Regions from separate parts of the Homo sapiens genome. Here all the other regions are reported to be linked to region 1. Evidence: microRNA targets listed by miRTarBase, many of them from high-throughput screens and not tested one by one. Region 1 holds a microRNA gene; each other region holds the end of a gene's coding sequence.
The links. The annotated mature microRNA hsa-miR-1306-3p reads ACGUUGGCUCUGGUGGUG and lies in region 1 at 2,617-2,634, shown strand. An mRNA with a match to its seed (bases 2 to 7 or 8) in the 3' UTR can be bound and repressed. Matches are read on the target gene's strand: a 7mer-m8 pairs with bases 2 to 8, a 7mer-A1 pairs with bases 2 to 7 and ends in A, and an 8mer does both.

Region 1 (4,000 bases):
GCACCAGGCTTTCCTGCTGTGCATTTCTTCAGTGCCGCCGCTTGGCCCCATTAGCACCTTTGCTTGGAACGTCTACTCTAGCTGCTTCTTCGCCTTCTGTGGTAGCAGGCTTCCCCATTCCGTCCCACTGTTGGTCTCTAATCCCCTGCTCCTTGTGGCTTCTTCATGTAGCTTTTTGTGTCCCAGAATCATGGATTGACTCACCAGGGTCTCTATGGGACTGCCAGGTTCTGAGGTGTGTGGCCCTGGTCTTCCTTGTAATCTGTGGCACTGGGCGCATTGACCCCTCGGTCTGTTTTCTCTAATGGTCTTTCTTGGTTGCCAGGAGACTGACCTCACCCCACTTAGTGTTCCTCATGCCTGCCTGGTTGCTGCCCACAGCCTCTTGAGCGTCTTCAGCACTTTATAGTCAGTTGTTAGCTCTGTGCTGTGTTTCCTGGATCCTCAGCACCTTTGATGGACACATCTTTGGGAACATACGGTGTGAAATTCCCATTAGATTCAGAAATGTTAGGACATCTTAGAATCCAGGAAATGGGGTGACAGTGCAGTGGTCATTGACCTGCCAGTGTGTCCAGGCCCTGTGACCTTGTCTCTTGTCCATATAGTGCGTTCCTCGGAGTAGATGGCCAGTGGATAGTTGTTAAATGTATTGATTAAACCTAAACTAGTCTCTGGTTTTCATGTTGTGTCCCCTTCGAAGTACATCCACCATGCCTTGTCCCTTGTTAAATGTGTGATGTCTGCATCTCCTGTTCTTTCCGGGAATCTTGGGAGGATGTTAGGTCATGCAGTGCGGTTTGCATGTGTGCATCTTTACTGGTATGCACGCATGTGCATGCATGCGTGTTCCTGTGCACGTTGTGGGAGTGTGCATGTGCGTGTGTCTGCATGTGTTCCTTCTGCTCTGATGCAGGGTTTTCTGGCTGCCCCCTCAGACCCATCTTCCCTGCTTCATGTTGTCCCTTTCTTCATGCTTCCTCTGTAGTAAGGCTTCCTAGAGTTGCATCCTTAACCCTCATCTCTGGGTGGCCTTCCTCCTGTGGGTTTGGCGACTACCTCCTCAGTGCGTCCTGGCCTTCCGTATCTGGACCAGTCATGGCTCCAGAGTTGTGGCCTCGGCACCTTCAGAGCCTGCCTGGAGGTCCCCTCTGTTCTCCTCGCCAGGCTCCTGCCTGCATGCTGGAATTTGGGTGTCCTTCCTTGTCTTTAGTTCCCTCTTTTCTCTGCTATCCACCTCCGTTGGGTCAACAAGTGCGGTCAGTTCTGTGACACTGTTCTTGGCCCATTGCCAGGGCCTCTTTCACACCTTTGTCCTCTGGCCTGGAGGACTGTCCCCGTGCCTTGGATGCAGTTGCTTCTGCCTGGCACAGCTGTGGGTCTCCCCTCTCAAGTAGGAACCTACTTGTGGCATGAGAGTCGCTTCACCTTCAGTGGCTCCTTATTGTCCCCAGGGCGGAACGGGCTGCAGGTGGCACCCAGGCCTCTCTGTGCCTCGGCTCCAGCTGTCTCTTGTGGCTCCCCACCCCAAATCCTGGCAGGTCCCTTCCCCACAGCCACCCACCCCTCTCCTCCATCGGGAACAGAACTATGCTGCCACCTCTGGTGACCTCAGCACGCTGCATCACTGTCCCCGTCCACGTGCTACCCTGTGGGCCCAGGAGAGCCCTGGGGTCCCTGGGTAGCAGAGCGCCTGGCCATGCCTCTGAGGCCCCTAGTGCCGCAGAGTTGAGCTGAGGGTCTCGCGCTCGCCCTCTGACTGACCCAGCCCTTGCAGGTGAGTGGATTGCTGTGCTCTGGTGGCCTGAGGGAGGCCACGCGCCTTCTGTGTGTTCCAGAAAGGGTGCCTCCCACTGCATGCTTGCTTATCTGAGTTAGAAGAATGCTGTGGTGGAGTTTAGTGTAAATTTTTAAAATATTTTTTGAGCCTTATGATTATATAGTTTTTGTGTTTCTGAAGTAGGAATTAAAGTGGGCATTAACAAAATATTTAACTTTGGACTTAAGTTATAATTCAGGTTCTGAAGAATAAAAGTAAGGTTAGTTTGTTTTGATGCCTAAAAAGTCCTCTTAGGGAATATTATTTTGAAGCCCTTTACTATGCTGTTAATAGTGCTTGGCTTTTAACTTGGTACCAGGGAATTGGAAGGTTTCTGTCATTTTGTGACGATATTTTTAAATTTCTTTGCAGGTAGAAGAAGAAAGGTGCCACTCCGGCATGAAGACAGACTCGCTTAGTCGCCAGTCACTTAAGCTGAGTGCATTGTGATTTCCAATAATTGAGGCAGTGGTTCTAAAAGCTGTCTACATTAATGAAAAGAGCAATGTGGCCAGCTTGACTAAGCCGCCAGCGCACAGCGCGGCAGGACGCGCCCGGGTCTCAGCGGACTTGTGCATGTTAGCTGTGTAGATTTATGTGAGGGCTTGTAAAACTCTGGTCTTGTAAACTAGTCTTAAGCGCTTTTAATATGGAGACAGATGAGAGCCCCTCTCCGCTCCCGTGTGGGCCCGCAGGAGAAGCGGTGATGGAGAGCCGAGCTCGCCCCTTCCAAGCGCTGCCCCGTGAGCAGTCTCCACCACCTCCCCTGCAAACGTCCAGTGGTGCAGAGGTAATGGACGTTGGCTCTGGTGGTGATGGACAGTCCGAACTCCCTGCTGAGGACCCCTTCAACTTCTACGGAGCTTCTCTTCTCTCCAAAGGATCCTTCTCTAAGGGCCGCCTCCTCATAGACCCGAACTGTAGTGGCCACAGCCCGCGCACCGCCCGGCACGCACCTGCGGTCCGGAAGTTCTCCCCTGACCTTAAGTTGCTTAAGGATGTAAAGATTAGCGTGAGCTTTACCGAGAGCTGCAGGAGTAAGGACAGGAAGGTGCTGTACACAGGAGCAGAGCGCGACGTGCGGGCGGAGTGCGGTCTGCTCCTTAGCCCTGTCAGTGGGGACGTGCATGCTTGTCCCTTTGGCGGGAGTGTTGGTGACGGGGTAGGCATAGGGGGTGAGAGTGCTGATAAGAAGGATGAGGAGAATGAGCTGGATCAGGAAAAGAGAGTGGAGTATGCAGTGCTCGATGAGTTAGAAGATTTTACTGACAATTTGGAGCTAGATGAAGAAGGAGCAGGCGGGTTCACGGCTAAAGCAATCGTTCAGAGAGACAGAGTGGATGAAGAGGCCTTGAATTTCCCCTACGAGGTATGTTGGCAGCCCCTCCTCTAGAGGGCTCTTAGCAAAACCCAAAGAGAGATTTGGGAATTGCAGCATCTTTTGAAAGCAGGGAAATTAAAAAAAAAAAAAACAAAAACCAAAATCCCCTCTGAGGTGGAATAATGTTAATGTGGAGAAGAGAAAGATGTAAGGAGTCCAGATTTTTAAAGTTTCCTAATGAAAAGTTTGGCCCATGGGTAGGCCCTGCATCCCTGATCTAGCGCGTGGGGCAGCAGGTGCTGCTGAGTTACGCTCCTTGGCAGTGTGTGCCCCTGGACCAGGTGTGTTGGTGTCAGCTGGTAGCTTCATCCTGTTTGTTTTTCAGATGATCATGCACCCTAAGGGCACATCTAGGCCCCCTGAGAGCACCTCCTTTCTGTGTCTGTTCTCAGGAATGCTGTTGAGCTCTCCTGTTGCAGGAGCATGAGCGCCAGGGGCTCTGGTGTCTGAACAGCGTGTTTTGCAGGATGACTTTGACAACGATGTGGATGCTCTGCTGGAAGAAGGCCTTTGTGCCCCCAAAAAGAGGCGAACAGAGGAAAAATATGGCGGAGACAGCGACCATCCGTCCGATGGAGAGACAAGTGTGCAGCCGATGATGACCAAGATTAAAACAGTGCTCAAAAGTACGTGTGTGGGTCAGAAGCAGTGGGTGTTCCAGGGCAGTGGAGGGGTGGTTGCTTCCTTAGCAGAAATGCTTTGAGAGAGCTCTGGTGCCAGGTAGTGGGCTGGGTGGAGGCATGTTTGAGGACAGGACAGAAATATCTGAGGAGGGAAACACAGGATGGGAGGACGTCCTG
Region 2 (4,167 bases), not on the chromosome of region 1:
TACAAAAAAGTTAGTCGGGTGTGGTGGCATGTGCCTGTAGTCCCAGCTACTTGGGAGGCTGAGGCAGGAGAATGGCGTGGACCTGGGAGGCGGAGCTTGCAGTGAGCCGAGATCCCGCCACTGCACTCCAGCCTGGGCGACAGAGCGAGACTTCATCTCAAAAAAACAAAACAACAACAACAAACAACAACAACAAAACAACTTCTAACTCCTATCTCAAGGATGGGGGAAACCGAGGCCCAGAGAGCGTCAAATCGCTGTTCAGAGCCAGGAAGCAGCACAGAAGCCTCAGAAGAGGGGGCCCAGGGTCTGCCTGAATGGGGCCAGGAGGTTGAGGTGAGGATGAGAGGGGGAGGAGCGGGGGGAACCGAGCAAGCCCCGCCCCCATACCTGCCAGGAATGTGACCAGCAACGCAGCCCACAGAACCTTCATCTTCCTGCCTGTGATTGGCCAGTCTGGGGAAGGAGAAACTGTCAATCAACCGCCAGTGAGGACTCCTCCCACCCCCAGCCCGGCCCCAACCCGGCCTCACCCCAGGTTAGCCTTCCAAGCCTTGTTGCATTATCTGCAACAGCCTAATCCCAGCACATTTACCAAGCCGCCCCCAACCCATTCCCTATTTAACTCCCTCCTGGTCTTCTCTTATCTCCCCATCCCCAGGTCGGCCTCCATAGAAAATTCCATCTTCCTCTCCCGGGGTTCAAATTCCATCCCCCCACCCCCTCCCCACCGCCGGTTCCATCTCAGTCCCAGTCTCGCATTCCTCATTCTCCCTTCACATTCTAAGCTCCAACCTCACAGTTAAGCGCCGTGTTCCATTTATGAGCTAATTCAGTCCTCATTTTAAAGTTCTCCAATCGACGGCTAGCTACCGTGTCGCTGCCCCTGGCTCCCCAGTTATGGAGATCTGAGGACACTGGGGACACCCAGTAGGTGCTCGATAAATGATAGTGACAACTCGTGGAGTCCTGCTATGGCTTACATCCCAGTCCAGCTGCTCTCCCCACCCCACCTTCTAGCGGGTCGGGTCGTCTCTGCTGCCCAGCCCTTCCCAGGTCCAGTCCCCTGCTGCTTGCCTCACCCCCGCTCCTCCTCTCCCCAAGCCCGACCCCGAGTAGCTCTCCTGAGACTACCTGGAGGCCAGGGGTTCCCAGGGTCCCAGCTCTTTCTAGAGGCCCCTGAGCTCATCCCCGTGCCCCCGACTGCGCTTCTCACCGGCTCCTGGGGAAGGACGTCCTTCACCTCCGCTGGGGCTGAGTAGGACTCAAGGATCCCAGACTTGTCCAATTATAGGGCTCCCCCTGTCCCGCCCCCTCCCCCAGGGATAGGGCGGGCTGGGCCAGCCCCCAGTCACGAGGTGGGCTGTTCTCCCCCTGCCCCAGGCACAGCAGGGCAGAGGGAGGAAGGAGGTGGGGCATAGAGGTCTTTTGACCACCCCCCACAGTCCCCAGGAAGGGAGGACACCTCGCCCAGTAATACAGACACCCTCCTCCATTCTGGGGGCCAAGCGTGGAAGGGGAATGTGGAGGCTGCCGCCCAGAGTCCTCCTTTCCTGACCCTGTCCTTTCCTGTGCCTGGATGAATGTAATCTGGAGAGGGGGCTGGGGATCTGGACTCCTGGATCCCAGAAAGAAAGTAGGGCTAGGGGGCTGGACAGAAGTGGGATGGGAGGGGCTGGGGGCGGTAGCTCACGCCTGTAATCCCAGCACTTTGGGAGGCCACAGTGGGCGAATCACTTAAGGTCAGGAGTTTGAGACCAGCCTGGCCAACATGGTGAAACCCCATCTCTACTAAAAATACAAAAGTTAGCCAGGCGTGGTGGCGGGCGCCTGTAATCCTAGCTACTTGGGAGGCTGAGGCAGGAGAATCGCTTGAACCCGGGAGGCGGAGGTTACAGTGAGCCGAGATCTCGCCACTGCACTCCAGCCTCAGCAAGAGGGAGACTGTCTCAAAAAAAGAAAAAAAAGAAAGTGGGGCTAGGCGGCTGGACAGAAGTGGGATGGGAGGGGTGGGAACAGTATGATGCACCTGCTAAAAGTCGAGGCTTTGCAAATGGGACCTGGGTTTTAATCACAGCTTCCTCTTTGGTTGTGACCTTGAGCACAGGGGAGCCCCCTCCCCACATGTGAAATGAGATTCCAGCACCTCCCCCTGGCTGCCACAGGTATTGTGGTTTCCAGGGGCTTGAAGCCGTGCTTCTGGGTTAAGGTTAGGATTCTGGAGTCAAATTGCCAGGGCGTGAATCCTGGCTCTGCCAGTTGCCAGCTGTGTGACCTTGGGCAAATGACTTGTCCTCTCTGAGCATCAAGTTCCTTTGCTCATCAGACTGGGAAAGCAGCGGCACGGGTATGTTTGGTGACAAGCTAACGTGTATTGAGCATGGAGGACAGCCCTGGCACACAGCGGTCCTATGTTAGGGCTAGCAATGGACAGGCCACAGTGAACGCTCAGACGCTGTCACTTTCCTAAGCCCTGTTATAAATCCCAGATGTTTCAGAGGAGAAACCCGTGGTTCAGCAGCAAGACGAATGGCAAAACCACACAGTGAGAACTGGGAGAGACTGGGACTCATTCCTGGCTCCTGGAGCGGGTGGGATCAGAAGATTCTGCGGGTCAGGGGAGGCTGAACTCCTGGTTCGAGAAGGAACCCCCAGTGCCGGGCCGGGCCTGTTTGCTTTGGCTGGCAAGGGGTGGCTGAGGTGGGGTTGGTAACCTGGGGTTGGTTCTACTCAGCAGCCTCCTTCCCCAGACCCTGGGGGCAGACAGGGTTTCAGTTCCTGGAGGCTCGGGAGTCGTGGTGGGCATCAGCTGACCCCAGCCCTAGGTTGGCAAAATCCAGACAGCACCAAGTCCTCAGACACAGGTGACCCAACTCCCATGGCTGGCCTAGGCCCCTCCTCCCAGGCCTGCGAGTCCTTGAGCCCCTTCTCCCTGACACAGCAGTTCCTAGTACCCTAGTTGTTCTGAAGCTGTTCCAGTAGCTTGAACCCTCTCCCAGCTCCCTGCCCCCATCTCTGCACTCAGAGACAGTGTCATCTCTGCTGCTGCAGTCTGCAGGGACAAAGTCCTCTATAGCCACTCCGGCCAGGTCAAGCTGGGGGCAAGTGACCTTGAGACCCTACCCTCAGGCAAGGGAAGGCCCGTAGTGTCCCCCAGCAGGGCAGATGTTCCGGATGGGAAGATAGCGACCCCAGGCCACGCTGCGCCCCTCTGAGCCGGACTTAAGGCAGCATCAAGGATCCGCTGCTTTCCGTGCTCCGGCCCTCTGGCGCCCCCTGCAGGCGGCTGGGGGAAGGTCAGGGCGGCCAGACTCCGGATGAAATGCTCAAAACAGGCCAGACACACTTGAGAAAACGGAGGCCTCCCATCGTTTTTTTTCCCACGTATATTTTTTGTTGTTTTTTGTTTTTTTTCTGTAAAATGTCCCGGTTCTTCCATAACTTATAAACATGATTTATACCGAGGAGATGGGAAAGTGGACGGGGCAGGGTGGACTGACCGGGGATGGGGAAGCTCCTCTCGCTGCCCCCTCGGGGCGGGCCCAGGCCCTTTGGAGGATGGGGACGCCAGGACACTCCTCCCTGAGGTTGTCTGGCCGCCTCTGCCCCTGGTGCTCAGAATCCTGCGTGCCCCTCAATTCCGGAATCCCTCCCGGGACCCCAGGCCCACTGGGCATGCTGCCCCTGCTACTCAGAATCCCGAAGCGCCATTCAGTTCCAGAATCCCCTCCTCAGCTGCTGGGGTGGCGGGGTCCCTCCTTTCCAATGTCCCCCCCGACCCCCAAGGGGGGAGGGAAGGGAGGGGGGCTCAGGTCTCCCCTCTGTGGCAGGGGGAGGTGGAGGTGGAGGTGGAATCGGAAGGGCGTGGAAGGCGGGGGCCAGGAGGGCTCAGCCGATGGTGAGGCCAAAGCCACACTGAAACTTGTTCTTGCGGTGATTCAGGAAGGCCCCAAGGGCCAGTGTCAGGGGCAGGGGTGGGAGCTTCTTCTCCAGCGTGGCACCCACGATCCAGTTGCTATCCACAGAGCCTGCAGGGAAGAGCTGAGGTGAGAGGCGTGCCAGCTTCCCACCATATCCATGCAGAGTTCCTGGCCACCTTGGATACCAGCCACATGCCGACAGCTTCCAGACCTTTAACCACACTGCTCCTGCCACCCTGAAACCCCA
Region 3 (4,167 bases), not on the chromosome of region 1:
ATTCTGAAATGGGTGAAAACCCTGCTGGCATGTGGCACCTTATATTAGCAATAAGGGCCTAACAGAATGACCTGTCTTCTTCTGTACTTCCAGATGCAGAAGTGGCCCTGAATCTTGGCTTCTTATGTAATTTCATGAGCAATTTGTTAACTTCTGGAAGAGCCACCGTTAGACCTGTGCTACCCTCCTCCCATAGTCACGGTAGTGAGTTTTGAGGGCAGAAATGGTGGTAGTAGTATTTCTTCTTGAGAGATGGTGGTTGGATCTAAGAGTCACATATTCAGAATTTCCTTTAGCTGCCCCTAAAGAGATTAAGAAAGTACTGGCCAGCCGTGGTGGCTCATGCTTGTAATCCCAATACTTTGGGAGGCCAAGGCGAAGGATTGCTTGAGTCCAGGAGTTTGAGATCAGCCTGGGCAACATAGTGAGACCTTTGTCTCTACAAAAAAAATAAATAAATAAACATTAGCTGGGCCTGGTGGCACTTGCCTATAATCCCAGCTACTCAGGAGACTGAGGTGGGAGAACTGCTTGAACCCGGGAGGTTGAGGCTGCAGTGAGCCATGATTGCGCCACTGCACTCCAGTCTGGGCAACAGAGAGAGACCCTGACTCAAAAAAAAAAAAAAAAGAGTATCAGTGTTTCAGGGGTTCCTACCAGTCCACCCTTCCCACTTCCCCTTCCTGCTACTCCTAATCACCTTTGACCTCTAACCCTTCATTGTTTGTGTCAAGTCATAATATTTGATTTCCCCTCATGCTCACTCCATCTTCATCAGCTCTTACTGTTTTACAGTTAACTCTGCTGTTTGCTGCATGCTGCATGAGACCCAGGGTCCTGGTAAGCTTGATTAACTCTAAATAGAACTGGCAGTGGCTTCTAGAACATATCTCCCCCAATCCCGCACCCCCAACACAAGCATCTAATCGTAGAAGAAGCTGCTTCATTGGTCTAGCTGGTTTTCTCTCGTGACTTATAATATGCAGAAATAGTCTGGTGTGGTTTCAGGTGTACATGTGGAATGCCTGCCTGCCTGCCTGATTAAAGTGAGGGGTCGTTTTCAGACTTTTGCTGCTAGAACAGCTGGGTAACACAGGTGGATCCTGTGATCAGTATTTGAGGTTTCAGTGTGGGAAGTTTTTTTCTTAAAGAGCCATAATCGGGCCGGACGCAGTGGCTCACAGACCTGTAATCCCAGCACTTTGGTAGGCCGAGGAGGGCAGATCACCTGAGGTCAGAAGATTGAGACCATCCTGGCTAACACGGTGAAGCTCCATCTCTACTAAAAATACAAAAAATTAGCCGGACATGGTGGCACAGGCCTGTAATCCCAGCTACTCTGGAGGCTGACACAGGAGAATCGCTTGAACCTGGGAGGCGGAGGTTGCAGTGAGCCGAGATTGCACCATTGTACTCTAGCCTGGGCAACAAGAGCGAAACTCCATCTCAAAAACAAAAGGAGCTATAACCATTATTTTCAAAATTAATGAAACCGTGGTGATGAGAGAAACTGGGTTTCACAAGCTCCGTCCTGCAATGTCACAGTCAGCATCAACCCTCTCCCATCCCCCTGCATCAGGTTTGAGAATGTCCAGAGTCAATGGAAACTCACTTCTCTGTTTCCCGCTGGTGGCAGTTTCATATCTGAGGGGTTCAAGTCCTCAAATTTCCTTTGACTGTACCCCTCAAAACCATAATAAGGCTGAGAGCAGTGGCTCACGCCTGTAATCTTAGCACTTTGGGAGGCCGAGGCGGGCGGATCACCTGAGGTCGGGAGTTCGAGACCAGCCTGACCAACATGGAGAAATCCTGTCTCTACTAAAAATACAAAATTAGCCGGGCGTGGTGGTGCATGCCTGTAATCCCAGCTACTCGGGAGGCTGAGGCAGGAGAATTGCTTGAACCTGGGAGGCGGAGGTTGCAGTGAGCCGAGATCGCACCTTTGCACTCCAGCCTGGGCAATAAGAGCGAAACTCCGTCTCAAAAAAACAAACAAACAAACAAACAAAAAAAAAAACAAAAAAAAAAAACCCATAATAAAAGCGGAGGAAAATGAAGAGATCTTAGAAATTATAGAGAATTCCTTACATTTAATCCTACAAGTACTGGCTTCATGAAAACCTCTTATAAGGAGATCAGCAGGTAAGGATTCCTGAGTGCTAGATGTTGTGTTAATAGAAGTTTATAAAGTTTCACATAGTTTATAGGGAGACTGAAAGCAGGGATTAAGGACCTTCTATCTCCTCTACTAGACTCAGGTAGTGGATGGAAAGGAAATACAAACATTTTTAATTTAACATAATTAGGGTTTTTTTTGTTTGTTTGTTTCTTTTTTTGAGACGGAGTCTCACTCTGTCACCGAGGCTGGAGTGCAGTGGCACAACCTCAGCTCCCTGCAACCTCCGCCTCCTGGGTTCAAGCAATTCTCATGCCTCAGCCTCCCAAGTAGCTGGGATTATAGGCATGTGCCACCATTCCTGGCTAATTTTTGTATTTTTAGCAGAGACCGGGTTTCACCACGTTGGCCCAGGCTGGTCTCAAACTCCTGACCTCAGGTGATCTGCCTACCTTGGCCTCCCAAAGTGCTGAGATTACAGGCGTGAGCCACCGCGCCCGATGAAGGGTTATTATTATTTTTTTTAAACTTTACCGTGGAAACTTTCAAACATGAGCAAAATAAGAGGATAATACAGTTCAGCCCCCAGGCAACCATAAACATATGCCTAATCTTGTTTCATCAATTACTACAGACCTGCTGAATTATTATAAAGCAAAACTATATCATTTTATCTGTAAATACTTTAGTATATATTTCCAAGAGATAATGATTCTTTAAAAAAACATAACCACAACCCCACCATTATCACACCTACAAAATGAACAATAATTCATTAACATGAAATGTCTAGTCAGTGTTTGAAACATCCCGGTTGTCTCATAAATGCCCTTTTACATTTGGTTTGTTTGGATCAGGGAATATAAAATATAGAGAAGACTTTTCCCCACTCACCCATGTAGTTTATGATTTAAATGGAGAGCCTGCTGTTAGTCACCAAACTGATTGCCGCAGCTATTGCACTGGGGACTCGGGGCAGCTGGCAAAACATCCTGCTTGGAAGCAAATCCTGAAGAGGAAGTCCATAGAGGTTTCTGCAACATAAGGCCCATGAAACCGGGCCAAAGGAAACAATCTTAAAAGAACAGTGACTTGATTTACTGTCTGGCTTAACAGCAAGTCTTGGAGCCCCTGCTAGTTGACTGGAATTAAACAGCAGATTTCCATTTAGGAAGACAGTCAGTTCCTAGAATGCCTGTCCATTCTTTGCACTGTATGTAGTTCCAGTGCGTAGTGAAGTGTCTGACATGTAATAGGAACTCAGTTCATGTGTTATGTTCTTTGTTCTCCCATTTTTAATGAGGTGAGCAGGAAATATGTATTCTAGTTAATGAGATTTCAGTTAATTCAGGTTTCACTGCACGTGGCTTGACACAGTTGCTTACAGGTTTCCCCAAGTAAATCATTGTTAGTGGCCATTCCTAAAATGAATTCTGGCAAAACTATAATTAAAGCTACACTTTACAAGTGAGAGGCAATTGGTAAACAGCTGGAACAGCCAACCCCAACCCCAAGTAGGTTGGCTCTTCCTGGCAGGATTCTCCCTGGCAGACCACGAAAGCAATTTCAGACCAACGAGTCAGGGGAGGCTTTGGCTCCCCAGGATCTGAAAGCAGCAAAGGCAACCCGCCCCCTCCTCAAAGCCCTCATTCAAGGGGTGGATCACGAAGGCCACCTAGAATGCAGGCAGAGTGAGGCTTACTGTGCCTCCACATTTTGAAATTGCTTGAGGCACTACTTATAGCTCTCTGCATTTGTAAAAGCGATTCCTTTGTGACCCCCTACATCGTTGCAGATACTCTACCTCAATCATTATTGGTCCTTAGGAGTGCACAGTATATGGATAGTATACACACATCAAAATACGTCAGCCTTCCCATGAAACCTAGAACATAGGCCATTGCAGTGTTTTTTAGATTACTCTTCCCCTAGGAAGTAGACAAAGAATAAAAATAAGATATGAGCATTTGTATAGCTTTTATTACTTTCCAAAGTGTTTTTTTTTGTTGTTGTTGTTTTGTTTTTGTTTTTGTCTTTTGTATAGTATCTCA

Region 2: miRTarBase lists TOMM40 as a target of hsa-miR-1306-3p. The part of its 3' UTR that is shown has no 7-base or 8-base seed match.
Region 3: miRTarBase lists SEPTIN6 as a target of hsa-miR-1306-3p. The part of its 3' UTR that is shown has no 7-base or 8-base seed match.

The regions. Positions count from the first base shown.
Region 1 is chr22:20,083,496-20,087,495 of GRCh38, forward strand. It overlaps MIR1306 (microRNA 1306), which reads left to right and starts at 2,563; the gene lies at 2,563-2,647. DGCR8 (DGCR8 microprocessor complex subunit) reads left to right here. Exons shown (of 14, transcript NM_022720.7): 2 at 2,192-3,188; 3 at 3,667-3,826. The coding sequence starts at 2,469. MIR3618 (microRNA 3618) reads left to right here and starts at 2,251; the gene lies at 2,251-2,338. RefSeq lists an enhancer at 1-287.
Region 2 is chr19:44,902,891-44,907,057 of GRCh38, reverse strand. It overlaps TOMM40 (translocase of outer mitochondrial membrane 40), which reads right to left. Exons shown (of 9, transcript NM_001128917.2): 9 at 3,369-4,028. The coding sequence ends at 3,889. APOE (apolipoprotein E) reads right to left here and starts at 1,262. Exons shown (of 4, transcript NM_000041.4): 1 at 1,217-1,262; 2 at 391-456. The coding sequence starts at 433. RefSeq lists enhancers at 1-340, 1,143-1,945.
Region 3 is chrX:119,622,008-119,626,174 of GRCh38, reverse strand. It overlaps SEPTIN6 (septin 6), which reads left to right. Exons shown (of 11, transcript NM_145799.4): 10 at 796-840. The coding sequence ends at 799. Among named protein-coding and RNA genes, the nearest start is that of NKRF, 18 kb to the right of the region's middle.